2 linked regions of the Homo sapiens genome follow. The protein of the gene in region 1 interacts with the protein of each later gene in a pairwise test. Each region holds a gene or a part of one and is shown in the gene's direction. Other genes may lie near its edges.

Region 1 (5,839 bases):
ATGAGGTGATTTTTCTTTTTCTCTTTTTTCTTTCTTTTTTTAATTTTTTAATTTTTTTTGAGACAGAGTCTTGCTCTATCACCCACTACACTCGAGTGTAGTGGTACAATATCGGCTGACTGCAGCCCTAACTTTCCAAGCTCAAGGGATCCTCCTGCTTCAGCTTCCTGAGTAGCTGGGACTACAGGCATGCGCCACTATGCCTGGCTAATTTTCTTGATTTTTTGTAGAGACAAGGTCTCATTATGTTGCCCAAGCTGGTCTCGAACTCCTGGGCTCAAGCAATCCTCCCAACTTGGTGTCCCAAAGTGCTAGGGTTACAGGCATGAGCCCCGGCACCCAGCCGATTTTTCTTTTTTTAAAAAAGCAAATTATTTTCCTGGAGGAATTTAAAAGTATAAAAAGTATTAAAACATAATATAGCAATTCAATTACCACCCTCCAGAATGATTCCCCATAATACCCTAGCTATGTGTTCCCAGTATGTTCTATGTGTATATGCTTTAAAAAATAAACACTATATAAGCACAAAAATTCCTCTGATGGTTCTCTCCCACTTTCAAGTTAAATTATGAACTAATTGATATGACCCCTTGTTGCTGCCTGATCTAGTCTCTGCAATATGGAACTTTTGCTATTGTTCTCTGCACTCTTTCATGCCTTTATGCCTTTGCATATGCTTTGTATAGAATATGGTTGACCTCCCTGCCCCAAATCTGACAAATATTTTACTGGTTCTTCAACCAGTTCTCCAGAAGTAGAACAAGTTCTTCCTCCTCTATGTTCCTATAGAACCCTATGTAGACTTCTTTACAGCATTTTGCACATTGTATACTCATCTATTCCTCCCCCCAGATTCTCCTCTACTACAACTCCCCTCACCTGGATTTTGAGCTACTTGAGGGTAGGGACTATTTTTCCAATTCTGTGGCAACAGTGCCTAGCCCAGAGCTTTGCACAAAGCACTATGCTGAATAAATGGTTGAATTTATTAAATCGTCTTCCTCCTTCACTTATCTTTTTAAAATATTGGGCAATTACCTCAGCAAAATGCAATTCCCCTGTCTTTCCCTTCATTTTACTCGTGAGTCGAAAAGTTGTCCTCATCAAGAAGTTGTAGTAATTCAACTGTAACAAGGCTACAAGGATTCATCTCTAACAGAGAAAAAAAAAGGTCAAAAGTTGGGAGTGAAATTAGCCCTAATAAACAACCATTTTCCTCAACCTTTAAGTCACTTGGAAGTGCTTGGCATTCCCCACCTATGTCTTTATCCAGCTCTTGTAACATATTTTTACTCAAAAGGTTAAGTTTCTTAAAGACACATATAGTTACTCGTTTGTACTTAAGTTGTATTGTCTATCTGTTCTAAATTGTTATTTATAGCAGTTTATGTGGCCACTGTTTTTCATGGCAACAACATAGCTTCATTATGGATTAAATAGGCTTCTTCTGGGCTGGTGTAGATCACATTTCTATGCCTATTTATGACACTGTTTCCAGGGGGAACTATAATTTCCAATTAGAAAAAAATATATACATTCTTCCATACCTTTCAAGTGATTTTAATGCAGGTGGTTCACAAGGAACACACTTTAACAATTTTAAAGGACTATAACTCTCAATTAAAATTCTAAGCTTACCAAAGAATAAACATCATCTTTTGAAAAACACTTAAAACTCAATAACAATTTCAAATCACGATAGAAAGTGCTTCCCGCAAAATGCTAAGAGCTTAACCGACATGAAAATAAATCTAGAGCCTTCGTCTGTCCCCACAAGCACAAACCCATAACCCCAAGAGAGATTCTCTAGACAGTGCACCCAAACTACAATACCCAGAATACCCTTCCCCGTCTGAACGCTGGGGACAATCGGAAGGGGAGGGGAAGAATTGTGCGTATAGAGAAATAAGTGTCCCGCAACTCCATCTCCCATAATTCTCGGTCCTCACTTGTGTCTGTCTGCCAATGTCAACACGAGTTACCCCCAGGAAGAACAGCCTCCAGCGACCTCAAACTACATTTCCCATGAAGCCATGGGCTCGGGCCTCCGGCTTCCCCGGTGACCAGTAGCCAATAGGAGACGCCGCAGTGGGCACCCTGTGTGTGAGAGTCCAGCCTTGGGCCAGAGTGCCGGGTCTAGGCCTGGAAGCGCGAGGCGGGCATTTCGGAAGAGAGTGGCGCGGCGTGGGGCGCCGCGAGGGCACTACGAGCCCAGGAACTGCCGCGCCGGCCCGATTTTCCGCGGCTGTATAAGGACTAGCGCTTCGGTAGCCGGGGAGCTGGAGGTCAGAGAGGCAGAAAGCCCCGGTGGCCGTGGCTGGGGACTGTGGGACTGAGGGGGCCTAGGGAGGAGGGTGCTTCCGGGGCCGCGGTCCTCAGCGCCTAACTCCACCCAGCTCCACCTCTGCAGGGGAGGGGGTATCGGGACTGGGAGTCGGGGGTGGGCTTTTGAGCTCTAGGCGCCAGTTCTCTTGAGCCCGGGAGCGCGCTGTCTTTGCTCTTTTTTTTTTTTTTTTTTGGTCCAACTCGCCCGCCCCTTTTTTTTTTTCCCACGACGCCGCCCCCCTCCCCCTGGCTCTGTGCCTCCTCAGAGGTCCGAAGTTGGGGTTTGCGTCCAGGGTTTTGCCTAGGCGGTGACTGGACTCTAATTCTTACCGCAGGAATTGGGTGATCTCTTTCCTCTTTTCCCTCAATTTGTATTTCAGGTTTGGGCACATAACCCTCCCTGCGCTACACTCCCCATTTTCTTTGGGGCATGGGAATTCCTTGCCACGCTCAGGGCGTGACTTTTTTTTTTCAAACTTTCTCTTTTTGCCTCCTTAATTGATCGCCATCTCTTTACTGGCCCCTCAGCCACCTGCCACTTCCCCCACCAGGTCTTTGAAGTGGGGAGAGTTTCCCCTCAATTTCTAGAAGGGATGGGAAGCAAAAGAGGGAAGGAATCTTGCTTTTGAGAAATGTGTGTTTAAGGTTCAGTGCAGGGTTCTGGTGAGAGTAAAAGGCAAGTTAGACTGGTTATAAAAATCCAGCGCTTTAGGGGTTTCCAGCAAAGACTGATAGCACTAATGTTGACAAACATTTAGGGGGCACACCTTTATTCTACAGAATAAAGTAGACCGTGTGAAACAGACCATATTAATCATTGTATTATTACAAACGTGTGCAAAAAACGCTAAGAGGGGTCAGTGGAAGAGCATACTGATGGGGGTGGTGAGTTCATCTATGGAAGTTCAAGCCTAACCCGGGAAGTGCTGAAGCCCTCATCCGGCTTTCAGGCTTTGTGAAGGAGGTGAATTTTAATCTGGGCTCCAGCAGAGTACAGGGGATTTGAAGTTGTCAAAGAGGAGGGAGAAAATGCTTCCTGCTACTGAGATTGGACTTTGAGAAGGGTAAACAGAAGAGGGAGCACTGTGAGACAGGTGGGCTTGCCTGATTGGAATAAAAGATATCAGCACAAATATACTGGGAAATAAATAGGGTGGAGAAGCTTGGGGTCATAATAACATGATACTTTGAAACATACACATAGTTTGGATATTATTCTGTATCAAATAAAATTGAAGGCAAAAATTAAGATTGGATGATTTTTCTTTTCATCCTAGGGAACCTGATTTGAGATCAATTCTTGGAGAACACAAAGAAGTGTGATGGTATGTTCCAGGTGTGAGTTTAAATCCAAGAAGAAGCTTGTCTTGCAGATGTTTTGTTTGTAGCTATTCTTAGCTACAGTCTATAGCTGTCAACTTTAAAGCCTAGAGACATCGATATATTTTCTTAAGAAATGCATTTGCTGTCCCCGTGCATCACATTATCTGAACTGTAGTCATCTCATTGGGTGACAATAATGACTGCTATTTATTGAACCCACATAATGTCCTAGTCATCATCATAAATACTTTGTTGCATTATCTTGAGTGTTATGAAGTAGGTACTATTATTCCTGTTTCTTTTTCTAGAAGAAAACACTAAAATGCACAGAAGTTAAACAATCTACTTAAAGTCACATAGATTATAAGTTGAGTTGAGGTTTGGGTGTACAGATTTCTGACTCCAAAGCCCATGCTCTGTTCAACATGGTTTGCTGCTCCCAATGTTCTTTCTTGTTCTTGACTTTCCAGTTGTGGTAAGGAGAGATAGGTATAGTTCATCATCCTGGCCAAAACCCAAATGATTCACTTAAAATTTCTATGTCAGAATGTATTTGCTGTAAAGTAGCTGCCAAAACCAAATTAACTGTCATTGCAACTGTAGCTAATTGTGTCTGCCAAAACCATAGTCAGTACGGCTATTTCTGAATTAGATGATTCTCTTTATAACACATATCATACCTCTAAGCTATTTGGACCTTGATAGCACTTTGGATGTATTTTATTTTAGCATTTTAAGAAGTTACCTGGGACACTAGATCTCTTTCATGACCTCTGCCCACGTGAAGTGTTGGAGAAACAATGAAGTACAAGGTGTGAACTCTTCCTGGGGTCTAGCTGGGGAGCTGGATGCCCACAGTTCTGAGATACTGTAGTGTGTAGTATAACAGAGACAGGTACAAAATGCTATGGAGGGATAAAGGAAGGTGTGACTCACTGTAAGGGAGACTCGGGGAGAAGGCTTCCATGAGGAGGTGACATGAGATAGGTCTTGAAGGATAGTGAGTTTGCCCCAGGCAGGGAAGGAGTGGAGGGGAGGCATTTCAGATAGAGGAGTCAGTCTGTGAAAGATGTGTGGCTGTATAAGAGTAGGGCATGTTCATTCAATGTGGAAGAATTCAGCATGGTTGGAGTGCAGATAGTTGAGTAAAAGGAAACTGTAATGGGTAGGAGAAGAGTCTGGAAAGAGGTTGGGGCTGATTTGCAAAGAACCTTGATTGCAATCCTAAGTTGGAATGTGCCCCCATAGGTCAGTGGTTCTCAAAACGTAGGGCATCTGCCAGTGGTAGTTACACTGTGCTCCCACAAACATTTTAATTTTACTAGTTACATGTTCAAATATGTCTTAAAAAACATAAAACTGAACTAAGCCATCACATCTAAGATTACTTTGGATTTTACTTCATAAAAATAGAAAGTGAACCAGTTTTCAGTTCATTTAAAGACAAATATTAAGTAGTAATAGTACACATTGTGTGTGAATATGGTAAAAATCACTAAGTAATACTCAGACTGAAATTTGGGAAGTGCTGCTTGTAGGCCATAAGAAACCATTAACATGTTTTAGAAGAGCACCACGATCAGATTTTTACTGTAAGGAAAATGACAGTGGGAAGGATACAGTGGAGGTGGATATGATGAGGCTGCTACTCTGTTCCACAGAGAGACAATAAAGACCCAAGAGTAGTGACGTGAGCGGAGCGAAGAGATTTGAGAAACATTTAGGAGGTAAAATTATTAGGACTTGGTGGATGTTAATATTATTTTGTCAGTGTTACCAGAATTGTTTTAAAAGTCTGCATGCCCCCCTTGCCTCTTGTCCTTTATATTGTATGGTGAGCAATAATATTGCCAAAACATGCTATGTTTCTATGTTCATTAAGATTACAATGGAAGCTATAGTTACCACTCGAGTGGATTTGGATTACACACAAACATCCTTCCCACCTTACTCAGTGTCCTTGAGAGCAGTAGCACAAATATTCAAGGCACTGATTAGGAATATGACCATGATCTGTGACCCTTAGGCATGCAAGAAATTCCTCAGCCTTTAAGACTCAGCTCATATGTCAACACCTCTGTGAAGCCTTCCCGACAGCCCTTGCCCAACATACATGAATGCACGCACAAGGCAATGTTAGGCCTCGGGCTTCCACAGGACCCTGCACTTAGTTACCTCCGTCCTAGCC
Region 2 (3,400 bases), on another chromosome or scaffold:
CCTTTTTTTTTTTTTTTTTTTTTTTTGAGACAGAGTCTCACTCTGTCACCCAGGCTGGAGTGCAGTGGTACTACCTCAGCTCACTGCAACCTCCACCTCCTGGGTTCAAGCAACTCTCCCATCCCAGCCTCCCAAGTAGCTAAGACTACAGGCGCCTGCCACCATGCCCAGCTAATTTTTGTGTATTTAGTAGAGATGGGATTCCACCATTTTGGCCAGGCTGGTCTTGAACTCCTGACCTCAAGTGATCCGCCTGCCTTGGCCTCTCAAAGTGCTGAGATTACGGCCATGAGCCACCACACCCGGGCTTGACCATATTTCTTAATCCTCATTTTATATCTGTGACCCTCAGAGCCAGTGAGACAAGTAACTAGTTAAGATGGTGTTAAGAGCCACGGTTTGAATCCAAGTTTGTCTGACTTTGAGTCAGCAATCTTTACATTGTGTCACACTGTGACATTTTAGGAAGATTAATTTGGTGTAGGATTCTAGGTGGCCTCGTAGGAGGAAAGAAACTTCTGGCAGGAATACCAGGTACAGTGTGCAGGGTTTCCTGATCTGCCTTTCCCAATCCCAGCTCTTCTGCATGTGTTTCCTTAGTTCCATCTTCATTATGTAGCCTACTCCAGTGGTCAGTGCCTTCACTGTCCATCCCTCCTGAATGGGCTCACTCTTTTCTCTGCTTATGCAGTACATCTGCCATCCCCTGCTTTCAGTTCCCCTGTTATCTTTGGATCAGTTCACTGTTGTTTCTCTCCCTTCCTATTTCTCTACCTAATTTTGGGTACATGTTTGAAAGCTCTCAAATGTGCTCAGCAGTTATTTTAGTTGATAGCTAGTTTAATTCTCTCATTCCTACCTTATGCAGTTTCCAGTCTCCTAGCACAGAAACCAATGTGCATTTGAATTTTTTTTTTTTTTCAGACTGGGAGACAAGACTTGAAACCAAAGAGCCAACTCCGAAGCCGGGTATTACTGAAGATTTATGCCATGGGGTAACAATGGAAAGGGAAGGTATCTGGCATTCTACTCTAGGGGAAACCTGGGAACCTAATAATTGGTTAGAGGGACAACAGGATAGTCATCTGAGCCAAGTGGGAGTTACCCATAAGGAAACCTTCACTGAGATGAGAGTATGTGGAGGTAATGAATTTGAAAGATGTTCCAGTCAGGATTCAATCCTTGATACACAGCAAAGCATTCCTATGGTAAAAAGGCCCCATAACTGTAATTCACATGGAGAAGATGCCACACAAAATTCTGAGTTAATTAAAACTCAAAGAATGTTTGTAGGAAAGAAGATCTATGAATGTAATCAGTGCAGCAAAACCTTCAGTCAGAGCTCATCCCTTCTTAAGCACCAGAGGATTCATACTGGGGAGAAACCCTATAAGTGTAATGTATGTGGGAAACACTTCATTGAACGATCCTCCCTTACTGTACATCAAAGAATTCATACTGGAGAGAAACCCTATAAATGTAATGAATGTGGGAAAGCCTTTAGTCAGAGCATGAATCTTACTGTCCATCAACGAACTCACACCGGAGAGAAACCCTATCAGTGTAAAGAGTGTGGCAAAGCCTTCCATAAGAATTCATCTCTTATTCAGCATGAAAGGATTCATACTGGAGAGAAACCCTACAAATGTAATGAATGTGGTAAAGCTTTTACCCAAAGCATGAATTTGACAGTTCATCAGAGAACTCATACAGGAGAAAAACCCTATGAATGTAATGAATGTGGAAAAGCCTTCAGTCAAAGCATGCATCTTATTGTACATCAGAGAAGCCATACTGGAGAAAAACCCTATGAGTGTAGTCAATGTGGAAAAGCCTTTAGTAAGAGCTCAACTCTTACCCTACATCAGCGAAATCACACTGGAGAAAAACCTTACAAATGTAACAAATGCGGGAAATCCTTTAGCCAAAGTACATATCTTATAGAACATCAGAGACTTCATTCTGGAGTAAAACCTTTTGAATGTAACGAGTGTGGAAAAGCTTTCAGTAAGAATTCATCTCTAACTCAACATCGGAGAATTCACACTGGAGAGAAACCTTATGAGTGTATGGTGTGTGGAAAACATTTCACTGGACGATCATCCCTTACCGTGCATCAGGTCATTCACACTGGAGAGAAACCTTATGAGTGCAATGAATGTGGAAAGGCATTCAGCCAGAGTGCTTACCTTATTGAACATCAAAGAATTCATACTGGTGAGAAACCCTATGAATGTGATCAGTGTGGAAAAGCCTTCATTAAGAATTCATCCCTTACAGTGCATCAGAGAACTCATACAGGAGAGAAACCCTATCAGTGTAATGAATGCGGAAAAGCCTTCAGCCGGAGTACAAACCTTACACGACATCAAAGAACTCATACGTGAGGAATGTTTTCACTGGCCCTTACCTCATGATTAACTCTTCAGTAATAATCATATGAGACATACAATGTAGAAACCTAATAAATGTAATGATTGTGGGAATCTTTCAGTTGAAGTACAATATGTCATATCAGATAATACCACTGCAGAGAATCCATCTAAAAGTAGAGAAATCTTGATTCAGAATGTATAATTTCCTTTATATCAGAAGGTTTAAATAGCTAATATAAACAATGAAGAGTCATGCTGAAGATAAGTTCTGTTATATCATACCGCACATTCTCCTTTGGCTATCAGAGACTTTACACTGGAGAGAAAAATGTGAGAGTGTTTAACTGGACAGCCCAGAGACCTGGTATGTAGTCCTAATCTGCCACTGCCTTGGACAACTTGCCTACTTCCACCAGGTTATGGTTCTTTATTTGGTAAATGAATGATTTTGGAGTTAGAAATCTTGTAGGAGCTCTGTTAGCTCTAAAATGCTACAACTCTATAAATATAATGAATGCTGGGAAATCTTTGTTCTTTTACGATCTTATGCTGTCTGTATGCAGTCTAGATGCTCTTGTTCCACAATCTGGTTTCCTTGGATCCTTTTAGTCAAAATGATTTACCTTTACGAATTCCTAGTACCCTTCCATGCCCCTAATCTTCCCCTGCATTGTTATTTTGTCCCCTAACTACAGGCTGGTTTCCATAAATTAATGGAATAAGTATGCAAATGTTTTCATTTATTTATTTATTTATTTATTTTGAGATGGAGTTTCGCTCTTTTGCCCAGGCTGGAGTGCAGTGGCTTGATCTCAGCTCACTGCAAGCTCCACCTCCTGGGTTCATGCCATTCTCCTGCCTCAGCATCCCAAGTAGCTGGGACTACAGGCGCCTGCCACCATGCCTGGCTAATTTTTTTGTATTTTTAATAGAGATGGGGTTTCACCATGTTAGCCAGGATGGTCTCAATCTCCTGACCTCGTGATCCACCCACCTCGGCCTCCCAAAGTGCTGGGATTACAGGC

Evidence for each region. Proteins that work in one complex are often made in the same cells at the same time.
Region 2: the proteins of ENOX2 (region 1) and ZFP2 interact in a two-hybrid assay, tested with the Homo sapiens proteins (one large-scale study listed by BioGRID).

What each region holds. Positions count from the first base shown.
Region 1 is NC_000023.11:130,899,498-130,905,336, reverse strand, and holds the start of ENOX2 (ecto-NOX disulfide-thiol exchanger 2), read left to right. Parts: upstream 1-2,127; 5' UTR 2,128-2,288; intron 2,289-3,605; 5' UTR 3,606-3,650; coding exon of another isoform or gene 3,651-3,653; intron 3,654-5,839. UniProt on the Homo sapiens protein: May be involved in cell growth. Probably acts as a terminal oxidase of plasma electron transport from cytosolic NAD(P)H via hydroquinones to acceptors at the cell surface.
Region 2 is NC_000005.10:178,930,313-178,933,712, forward strand, and holds the end of ZFP2 (zinc finger protein ZFP2), read left to right. Parts: intron 1-924; 5' UTR 925-1,001; coding exon 1,002-2,387; 3' UTR 2,388-2,900; downstream 2,901-3,400. UniProt on the Homo sapiens protein: Probable transcription factor involved in neuronal differentiation and/or phenotypic maintenance.